Regions from separate parts of the Homo sapiens genome. Here region 2 is linked to region 1. The links come from fine-mapping of genetic effects on gene expression. Tissue or cell type: aorta. Region 1 holds a variant in brackets; the other region holds the start of a gene. All regions are shown on one strand. Distances are from middle to middle.

Evidence for each region. PIP is the estimated chance that this variant, and not a neighbour inherited with it, causes the effect. A credible set is the group of variants that fine-mapping cannot tell apart.
Region 2: AP3B2 starts here. The variant in region 1 is the best candidate, but not a certain one, in a credible set for the expression of AP3B2 in aorta (GTEx, PIP 0.53).

What each region holds. Positions count from the first base shown.
Region 1 is chr15:83,138,387-83,143,386 of GRCh38, reverse strand. It overlaps HDGFL3 (HDGF like 3), which reads left to right. Exons shown (of 6, transcript NM_016073.4): 6 at 4,112-5,000. The coding sequence ends at 4,117. Among named protein-coding and RNA genes, the nearest start is that of TM6SF1, 33 kb to the right of the region's middle. The variant A/G (reference allele first, on the strand shown) is at 3,052.
Region 2 is chr15:82,707,002-82,712,528 of GRCh38, reverse strand. AP3B2 (adaptor related protein complex 3 subunit beta 2) reads left to right here and starts at 2,654. Exons shown (of 27, transcript NM_001278512.2): 1 at 2,654-2,935. The coding sequence starts at 2,823. It also overlaps the pseudogene LOC338963. RefSeq lists silencers at 2,601-2,650, 2,871-3,130.

The DNA.
Region 1 (5,000 bases):
TCTCGAACTCCAGACCTCAAGTGATTCGCCCGCCTCAACCTCCCAAAGTGCTTCGATTACAGGCGTGAGTCACTGCACCTGGCCCCCTTTAAGGGGCCTGTAATCTCAACACTTTGGGAGGCCAAGGTGGGTGGGTCACCTGAGGTCAGGAGTTCAACACCAGCCTGGCCAACATGGTGAAACCCCATCTCTACAAAAAATACAAAATTAGCTGGGCGTGGTGGCATGTGCCCGTAATCCCAGCTACTCAGGAAGCTGAGGCAGAATTGATTAAACCTGGGAGGCGGAGATTGCAGTGAGCTGAGATTGTGCCACTGTACTCCAGCCTGGGTGACAGAGCAAGACTCCGTCTCAAAAAAAAAAGTTATTAAGGGCCCCAAAGAGCTTTGTTTATATATGTGATCGTTAATGATATTTATTTAATTAGAAATAAAAACAAATTTTAAAAATACTTAATTCATTTAATATAATAAATCCATTACTTAAATAGCATTTTTATGAAAATAACATTTCACAGAAAAGTTTGCAGAAAGACATTTTTACATTTTTGCAAATCTTTTTAATGTCTGATTTGATAGAAGACAACTAGATCCTCATATCTATTTCTGCATTCTCTTTATTGTAATATGTAATTGTGGTTGAAGGTATATGAAGAAAATCTGGTATTATACAGATATTTAATTGAAAAATGGTGATATGAGTATCTTAATCGTCTTGCTTTTTTTTTAAACTTCAGGGAGTACATGTGCAGATTTATTATTAAAGGTTAACTCATGTCACAGGTGTTTGTTGTTACCCTGGGTTCTAAGCCTAGTATCCAATAGTTACTTTTTCTGATCCTCTTCCTCCTCTCCTTTACCCTCCAGTAGGCCCTAGTGTCCATTGTTCCCCTCTTTGTGTCCATGAGTTCTCATTATTTAGCTTCCACTTATAAGCAAGAACACGCGGTATCTGGTTTTCTGTTCCTGTGTTAGTTTGTTAAGGATAATGGCCTCTAGCTCTATGCATGTTCCCACAAAAGACATGCTCTCACTCTTTTTAATGGCTGCATAGTATTCCATGGTATATATGTACCACATTTTCTTTATCCAATCTGTCATTGATGGGCATTTAGGTTGATTCCATTTCTTTACTATTGTATATAGCGAGTGCTGCAGTGAACATTCTCATGCATGTGTCTTTATGGTAGAATGATTTATATTACTTTGGGTATATAAGCAGTAATGGGATTGCTGGGTTGAATGGTAGTTCTATTTTTAGCTCTTTGAGGAATTGCCCTACTGATTTCCACAATGGTTGAACTAATTTACACTCCCACCAACAGCATATAAGCGTTCCCTTTTCTCTGCAACCTTGCCAGCATCTGTTATTTTTTGACTTTTTAGTAATAGCCATTGAGTTGTGTGAAATGGTATGTCACTGCAGTTTTGATTTGCATTTCTCTAATGATCAGCGATACTGAGCTTTTCTTCATATGCCTGTTTGTCTAGCGCTCTGAATAGCTTTCCCCCAGTTAGAAAATATAGGTTTTCTGAATTACTTGGGTCTTCCAAATATTCACTCATTTCAGTACAAAATGTTTTTAATCACATTTTTAATATCACTACCTATCTCATCAGAAAAGTCTTTAAGTATTGGGGCCAAGTTTGGTGGCTCACACCTGTAACCCCAGCACTTTGATAGGCTGAGGCAGGAGGATAGCTTGAGGCCAGGAGTTCAAGGCTGCAGTGAGCTGTGATCACACCGCTACACTTAGCATGGGCACAAGAGCAAGACCCTGTCTCTAAAAAAAAAGTCTTTAAATATTGGAAAACTGTCAGTCATGGAGGATTTGAAATTCTAGTTTTCACTGAACACTCAAATTTTATCATTGGCAAAAAACAGTTGTTTTTCTGCAAGTAATAAGTTACTTATTTGTTATAACGTGCCAAATTGCCCAGTCTGCATAGCCATATTGAATATTATCATTCCTTCATATCAAAATGGTACTCCTTGAAAAGATCCTTACGGCTTCTGTTGTTTCATAGCTTCTGCTTACAGTGTTCTGGGTATCCTTCAGTTTTGCTACCACCCTATAGCCTCTCAGTGTGCCTCACATTTAGATACCTCCAGAGAGAATCCGATTGGATTCTTCAGCCATTATCTAATATAGGGGTGCATGGCAACCAGTGCATAAGGAACCACTTGTGGCTACTTACTCAGAGGAGACTTCAGATCTAGGAGACAGTCAGAGTACCATGTCCAGAATATATACCATGATGAATTAGCAAGATGCAGTTTTCAATACATAGATGCAAAGTGATTATGGTATGAGAATTTTTTAATCTCAGATTTTGTAATTTGCTTTTACAAAGCACCCATTTGACAGCACCTTGTTTAAAGACCACAAAAAGCATGTCCTTAAAACTATAGTCACATTCTTGGTGCTCCCTTCACTTTGTTTGGGGTATTAATACTACTCTGAGGCTGCCATGGGACCACCTGTTCCAAAAATATTCTTTGATGTGGATTGAGTAGTTTTTACTGTGATTATTCTACCAAGATAAACATAGAATTTATTGCCTTTCACAGTAATAATAAGAAAACATTGTTAAAGAAGGTTTCGGCCAGGCACGGTGGCTCACGCCTGTAATCCCAGCACTTTGGGAGGCCGCCGAGCCAGGCAGATCACAAGGTCAGGAGTTTGAGACCAGCCTGACCAACGTGGTGAAATCCCATCTCTACTAAAAATACAAAAATTAGCCGGGCATGGTAGCACACACCTGTAATCCCAGCTACTCAGGAGGCTGAGGCAGGAGAATCACTTGAACCGGGGAGGTGGAGGTTGCAGTGAGCTCACATCACGCCACTGTACTCCAGCCTAGGTGACAGAGCGAGACTCTGTCTCAAAAAAAAAAAAAAAAAACTTTCTTTGGTTGACTAACAATTTTTCATTGTTCTAATGGGTGTCTTCCTCCTTCACAAGGGAGGAAGATCCTCCAAAGTATCTGTGAGTATAATCTTATAACTGGTGTTTTTGTTAAGAAATAATTAGGAGTCACCAGGCACTCC[A/G]TTTTTTAAGTTCACAAATTTCAAACTTTTTTTTTAAAGATTTACTTCCTCATTTTAATAGGGACAGAAGGATAAAAAGTATATTTCTGCCATCTTAGGGGGATGGAAGTTTTGGTAACTCTCTCTCCTTTGAAGGTCCTGGAATCGTTTATTATAATATATACCATTTAGTATACATGTTGGGCTGTCTGAATGAGAACATACCCATCAGTGTGCACATGTGCTTACAAACATGTTCATTCATTTAGTGAAATTAAGAGTGGAAGCAGGCTGTTTTCAGAAAAAATATTTGAGGGCTGAGTTCCCTCTTTCATTCATCCCATGAGGGTATTACTAGGGGGTTTAATATATTTGGGTTAATGATGAGGGGGAAAAAATAGCATCCTTTTGGGGAAATAGAACCAGACACAATTTAAAGTGGGACCCAAATAGAAACATAATTCTTTTATGAAACAAATGTTTTATTTTCTGTTTGTCACACGGATGCCATCTAAATTTTAAAAGAAATCTAGGCTTCCTCTTATTCTTTATGTTTTTTTTAAAAGCAAGAAGTCAGAGACTTTGTACATCATGATTAACTTCTACATTTGTTTGAGCTATGTGTCACAAGTAATTAAGTTATAAATATTCTGAAGATTAATTGGTGCACACTCTAAGTGCTTTTTAAATTTTACACAGCTTACCTTTCTTTCTGAAGAATGTCCTCACAAAGATAGATTATATCAATTTCTCCACTGATGATGTATTCCAGCAATAAACATAGTCCTAGAATTGTAGAATGTGCACTGCTGCACTCTGTCCTAACAGACAGTAGACAAGGTTTATAATTTTTTTCTATGGGACACTAAAAATACCCTAGGATTTCCTTTAACTTTTTGCACTGACAGGTCTAAAGCAAAGCCACAGAAGCTGCTCTTGCTCAGTAAGTATTGTTAATGCTGCAGTGCATATTAAAATTTCAGAAAACCCAATTATGTACTATCTAGGTGTGGATAGCTCTCATTGTTAGTATCCTAAATCATCTAAAGGCTTGTTTTCTTTCTTTTTTTTTTTTTTACAGACCTAACTACCATAATGAATGCTGCATATTAAGAGAAACCACAAGAAGGTTATATGTTTGGTTGTCTAATATTCTTGGATTTGATATGAACCAACACATAGTCCTTGTTGTCATTGACAGAACCCCAGTTTGTATGTACATTATTCATATTCCTCTCTGTTGTGTTTCGGGGGGAAAAGACATTTTAGCCTTTTTTAAAAGTTACTGATTTAATTTCATGTTATTTGGTTGCATGAAGTTGCCCTTAACCACTAAGGATTATCAAGATTTTTGCGCAGACTTATACATGTCTAGGATCCTTTTATCAAGGCAGTTATGATCATCGTTTTCCTGCCTTGACCCCACCATCATCAAACACTCAGTTAAATATAAATTAACATTTTTTAGATGACCACTCAACATAATGCTTAAGAATGGAATTTCCTCTCTGTGACAGAACCCAGGAATTAATTCCTAAATACATAACGTTGGTATATTGAAGACGAAATTAAAATTGTCCTTCAGTTTTGAGGCCATGTGTAAAGTTTAACCATATTGTAAAATATCTATTCCGTATTAGAAATAGCTAGTTGACAGCTTATACTTCTCAAAATTCATATTGTTATGTACACAAACTAAGTTTCTATATGTGAAGTTAGTGAGTCTTTTTGTGTTACTCCAAAATAAAGGCAATGATTTATTTTTTTCCCAGTGCCAATACAATTTTGAGCTAAGCACTCAAGGTGGATACTTTACATTTTAAAGCTGGAATCAGCAACAGCCCTATGGGAAACCAGACAAAGCATTGACTTTTAAATGTAGACTTTTAAAATAAACTGTTTTCTTTTGGAACTACAATTAGAATAGTTAATATTCATCCTTAAACCATTATTATGTGTACATTATTGTT
Region 2 (5,527 bases), 430 kb after region 1:
GCAGGAATACATTAGCTGCGTGCACTCCAGTGATACATAGCCTCTGTAAACCTGTTTCCTTATCCTGAAAATGGGGACATTGTTCCTATCTTGTGATTGTATTAAGGATCAAATGAGCAGCTGCTCAACAGAGGTTTCTGGAGAGGTCCTTCTCCACACAGACTTGGGAGGAGATGCTTGTCCTAGGTCCAAATCTCATCCAGGTTTCCCGATTTTTTCAGGTCTTCTGCTCAACTCAGGTACCAGCTGACACCCACCCAGTCCCTGGTGTTGCCTTCAGGAGCAGTGGCAAGATGGGAGCTGGTTGGGGAAGGGGATCCTAGCGCAGGGGGGAGGAGGAGAGAATGGAATGGCTGGACTTTGAGATGAGAAGACAGTTGGATGGGGAGGAGGCACCATTTGCTGGAACTGAAGGGTTCTCAGTAGGGGCTCGAGGCAGGATGTATCTGTGATATCTGGACCTCTGGAGTCCCTTAAGCACAAGGAGGCAAGTGTGTGGCAGTGAAGACATTCTGCCTTGGGCCCAAGCCCAAGACAGGTCTCCCTGAGCCCTGGGCAGACCATCCGACCTATGGTCATTGGAAGGACCCACCTCCTCCCTATCCCAGGCCTGTGTAAACGCCAGGAAGGCAGGTCCCTTTCTCCATGCAGGCCCTGACTGGGGCAGTCAGCACCATTAAGTTCTTCCTCTCTGAGGCTTTCCTGGGTCAACACTTCGAGGCTGTGTAGTTGGAGGGCAGGGAGCCTGAGCCAGGAGACGTCTTCCTGTTCAGGCTGATTCCCCCCACCTGACGCTGGTGCGGGGCCCACGTTGGCATATACTGTGGCCATGGAGAGATCATCCACTTTGAGGGTGAGTGCCTCCAGCAGAAACACAGGCCCAAGTCTGCGGAGAGGCTGCCCAGCCAAGCCACGCCCCACCAGTGAGCTGGCTACTCGGGGATAAAGACTGAAGTCCCAGGCTGGGGGTACGTTTCTCTGAAAATGGGGTTTGGGCACTCAGGGTCCCTGAGGTCTCAGGAAATGGGGGTGCGGGATCACAGGGCATAGGACCTAAGCCTGGCTCTGATCCGCACCCCTCTGGCGATCCCCGCAGGCAAGAACTCAGGAGGCTGTGGGCTCCTGGGAAGTTTCTGGGCTCCTGGAAAGGCATCGTATCCAAACAGGGGCAGCGCCCGCTGCTGCGCTCCTGCTGGCGCGTGCTGCGCAGAGTGAGCGAAGCGACGGACGCGGACCCACCATCCTATCACTCCATGCGCAGCAACTGTGTGCACTTTGCACTGTGTCTGCTCGTCCCAGGTCCCAGCCTGGACCCCCGGCAAATAGACGGGAGCTCCAGCAGGTCGGTGAGCGTGGCCCAGCTACCTGCACAGGACCCATCCCACCTCCTGAGCAGACTAGCCAAAGCGCCTTATAAACGCGCAACTGCAAAATCCAGGCCCTTCTCTTCCCACTCCCCACCCAGGCCAGTTTTCTCCAAATTCAAGATCCACTTTTCTCTGGCAGGCACAAAGCCACCGGAACCAAGCGGACCCACCCACTTGTCTAGGTTATCCCAACAGAACCTTCTCATTACCCCAATAGAACCTTACCCCAGTAGAATTACCCCCAATAGAACTTTTCTACTGAGCCAAGCTCCACCTTTCTGGGCCCCACTCCTTCCCAGGTAGGCCCGCCAATTCTGCCCATGGAGACTTCGGGATGCTAGTTACAGACCAAGACTCAGGCCTTAGGAACTCCTCCAGTCCCCATGCCCAGCTAAAAGACTCCAGCCACCTCAACTGATGCCCAACTGGATCCTACCTCTTCCCCCAGCCCAATTCACTACTTTCCATCGGATCCAAGCCTTCCTTCCTTGGGCCTAGGGGTCACTCGGGCTCGGGAGCTGAACTGGAGGGCTCACATGACTCAGGAGCCCTGGTGGTCACACCAGACCCTTCTCTTCCTTTTCAGGTGTCAATGGACGTGGACGTGTCCCCGGATTAAGCATGACCTTGGCCCTCCTGGGTGGACGTGGAGGCTTCAGAAAGATTCATTAAACTACTTTCCAAAGCTTAATTAGATGTTCACCGTCCTCTGTATCCTGTTTCCCATCTCTCTAAGCCCCCAAGGGCTCCTCGGAGCTCCCTGACCTTAATTCCTTAAATTCCGCCACCTCCAGGAAGCTCCTCGGCTTCCTGCTGCCAAGCCAGATTTTGTAGGAAAGGTGGGGCGGGAAAGGGAGCGTCCTTAGGTATCTGAGGCCGGTCCTCGGGTGCGGTGACCCCTTCCCGCTCTAGAACCCCCAGCCTGCGGGCACAGCCTTCTTTCCAGTTCCCGCTTTCCCTCCACGGCGTGGGTGAGCATCCGCGCGTGCGTCTGGGGAGAGCGGAGCCCCAGAGGCCCGTCCCGCCGAGGCCAGGTGGTCGGGGGTGGGGGCAGCTATTCCACATCCCCTGCAAGACGGTCCCAGCGTCCGTCCAGCAGACTCGCCCACCTTTAGATCTGGAGACGAGCCAAGTCGCTTTAAAGGGCAGAAGACGCCCTGAAGAGGGCATTTCCTAGGGATGGGCGGGGCCAGGCCCTGACGCACCGCCCCTGTCGCCTCCTCGCGGACACGCCCTCCGCTCGGCTGGCGCCGGTGCCTTTAAGACCTCAGCGCGCGGCCCTGATTGAGAAATCCGCGCGCAGCCTCCGCCGCTGCACACTGCAGCCTCTGCTGAACCCCTGCCGCGCCGCCGCCTTCGCCAGCCCGGACCGGACCGGCCCGCCTTCCCTTCCTCCGCTCCAGCCGGCCTCCGGCCCCGCAACCTCCTCCTCGGCGAAGTCTCCCTGGCCGCCCCATGTCGGCCGCCCCCGCCTACAGCGAAGACAAGGGCGGCTCCGCTGGCCCCGGGGAGCCCGAGTACGGCCACGACCCCGCGAGCGGCGGCATCTTCTCCTCCGACTACAAGCGGTGAGGGAGCCCGCCAGGAAGCTCGCGGGAGGGTTGGGGCCGGGGACCGGGCGAGGCGCGCGGGCACCATGGACAGCGCCCGGCCCCAGCGCCGGCCCCGCCCCGGCCGCGCCGACCGGAAGCCCGCCCGGCCCCCTCCTGCGGCCTGGAGCCCCGGCCCAGCGCGGGCAGCGCTGGCACCCCGGCTCCAGGGGCCGGCCTAGGACGCGGAGGGGGGCAGATAGGGGCTGGCGGGGGATGGGCCAGCTCAGTTTCGAGAGGAGAAACCCTCCGGTTCCAGGTGTTTCTCCGGTTTGCGGCGTTGCGTTAGGGGTTCCCTTCCTTTTTCGTGCTAGGCGGGTTGGCTTCCCAAAAATGTGGGGGAGGGGTCTGAGTCAGCGAACTTGAGCTTGAGCCTGGGGCCTCTTCAGGAAGGCGGGCCCTGGATGTACTTGCACAGCCTCCCAGCTTGGCCCTGCTGCAAATTCATTTCCCCTCCCTCTGGTCCCCATCTCCATCTGACCCTCACATCCCTGCTCCTGGCATTGCCCCTGTAGTTCAGCTCCACCTTCACACCCTCCCCCACCTTTGATTCGTTCGTTTGTTTCTTCATTTGTTTATTCGTAAATTCTGCAACAAGCATTTATGAAAAGCCAACTGTGTCGAGTCCTGAACTAGTCACGGAATACAACTGTGAACATGAGACCCTTCTTGTCCTCACGATGCTCTAGAGGGGAGCACAGATGAAGAAGCAGTCAGGGACAGTCGAGTGTAATGGGGGCAGTGGGAGCAGGGAGAGGACCTAGTCTCTGGCGCCGGAGAGAAGGAAGACAGGAGCGTGAGGTATGTTCCAGGCAGAGGAAAGGGCTTTCAGGAAGGTTGAGAGCCAGGCCACAATCTGTGTGAGCCACTGGACTGACCAGAAAAGAGGGTGGGGAGGACTCCTGAAGGATTCTAAGCAGGCGACATAATCAGATTTATATTTTAGAAGGACGTCAGGCTGCTGCATTGTGGAGAAGAGATTGGAGGTGGGCCAGATTGAACAAGAGACAAGGGAGGTGGGTCTTGAAGTTCACAGGCCTGGCATGATTGTGGCCTAGACCAGGGGAGAGGCAGAAGATTTGAGGCTGTGGAAGAGGTGGAAGCCTCAGACCTGATGATTAATTGGATATTGGGTGGGGGTTTAGAGGGACAGGGGGAGAAGATGAGGATTTTCACGCACGTCCATGTGAAGAGACCACCAAACAGGCTTTGAACAATAAAGCTTTTTAATCACTTGGGTGCAGGCCAGCTGAGTCCGAAAAAAGAGTCAGCGAAGGGAAATGGGGTGGGACCGTTTTACAGGATTTGGGTAGGTAGTGGAAAATTACAGTCAAAGGGGGTTGTTCTCTGGCGGTGGGGGGACACAAGGTGCTCAGTGGGGGAGCTTTTGAGCCAGGATGAGCCAGGAGAAGGAATTTCACAAGATAATGTCATCAGTTAAGGCAGGCACAGGCCATTTTCACTCTTCAGTTACTTCAGGCCATCTGGATGTATACGTGCAGGTCACAGGGGATATCATGGCTTAGCTTGGGCTCAGAGGCCTGACATTCCTGTCTTCTTTTATTAATAAGAAAAATAACATAAAATAGTGTTGAAGTGTTGGGGCAGCAAACATTTTGGCGGGGGGTGGTATGGAGAGATACTGCTTCTCCATAGCCTTGAAGGGCTGCTTCGAGCGGGATTGGGGTGGCGTGGGAACCTAGAGTGGGAGAGATTAAGCTGAAGGCAGATTCTGTGGTAAGGGATGATATTGTGGGGTTGTTAGAAGAAACATTTGTTGTATAGGATTATTGGTGATGGCCTGGATACGGTTTTGTATGAATTGAAAAACTAAATGGAATAAGAGAAGGAGAAAAACAGGTATTAAAGGACTAAGAATTGGGAGGACCCAGGACATCCAATTAGAGAGTGCCCAAGGAGGTTCAGCATAGCCCTGCCAGCAAAGATTATTTATTTACTTTAAGAGGGAGTTAAGACTGGCAGTTTGGGGATAGCACCAGGAGATATCAGCTGTAATGGTTTGGAGAAACAGTGTAAACCGGCAGTGTAAACAAGAGCAGGGCATGTATGAGTAGTTGAGTATGGTGAATAGGAGTATGACTAGTCAGAAGATAGTAGGGATGACAAGTTTTCTGGGGCACAGTCCAAGTTGGTCTGGTGTCTGGAATGAGACTGGGGCCTAATAAAAAGGAGCATCTATACAGGAGCTTGAATGGGCTGTACCCTGCAGCATTCCGAGGACAGGCCCAAATTCTGAGAAGGGCAAGTGGTAAAAGTATTGTCAGTCCTTTTTAAGTTGGTGGCTGAGCTTGGTGAGGTGTGTTTTTAAAAGACCATTAGTCCGTTCTACCTTTTCTGAAGATTGAGGATGGTAAGGGGTATGAAGGTTTCACTGAATACCAGGAGCCTGAGAAACTGCTTGGGTGATTTGACCAGTAAAGGCTGGTCTGTTATTGGACTATATAGAGGCGGGAAGGCCAAACTGAGGAATTATGTCTGACAGAAGGGAAGAAATGACCGCAGTGGCCTTCTCAGACCCTGTGGGAAAGGCCTCTACCCATCCAGTGAAAG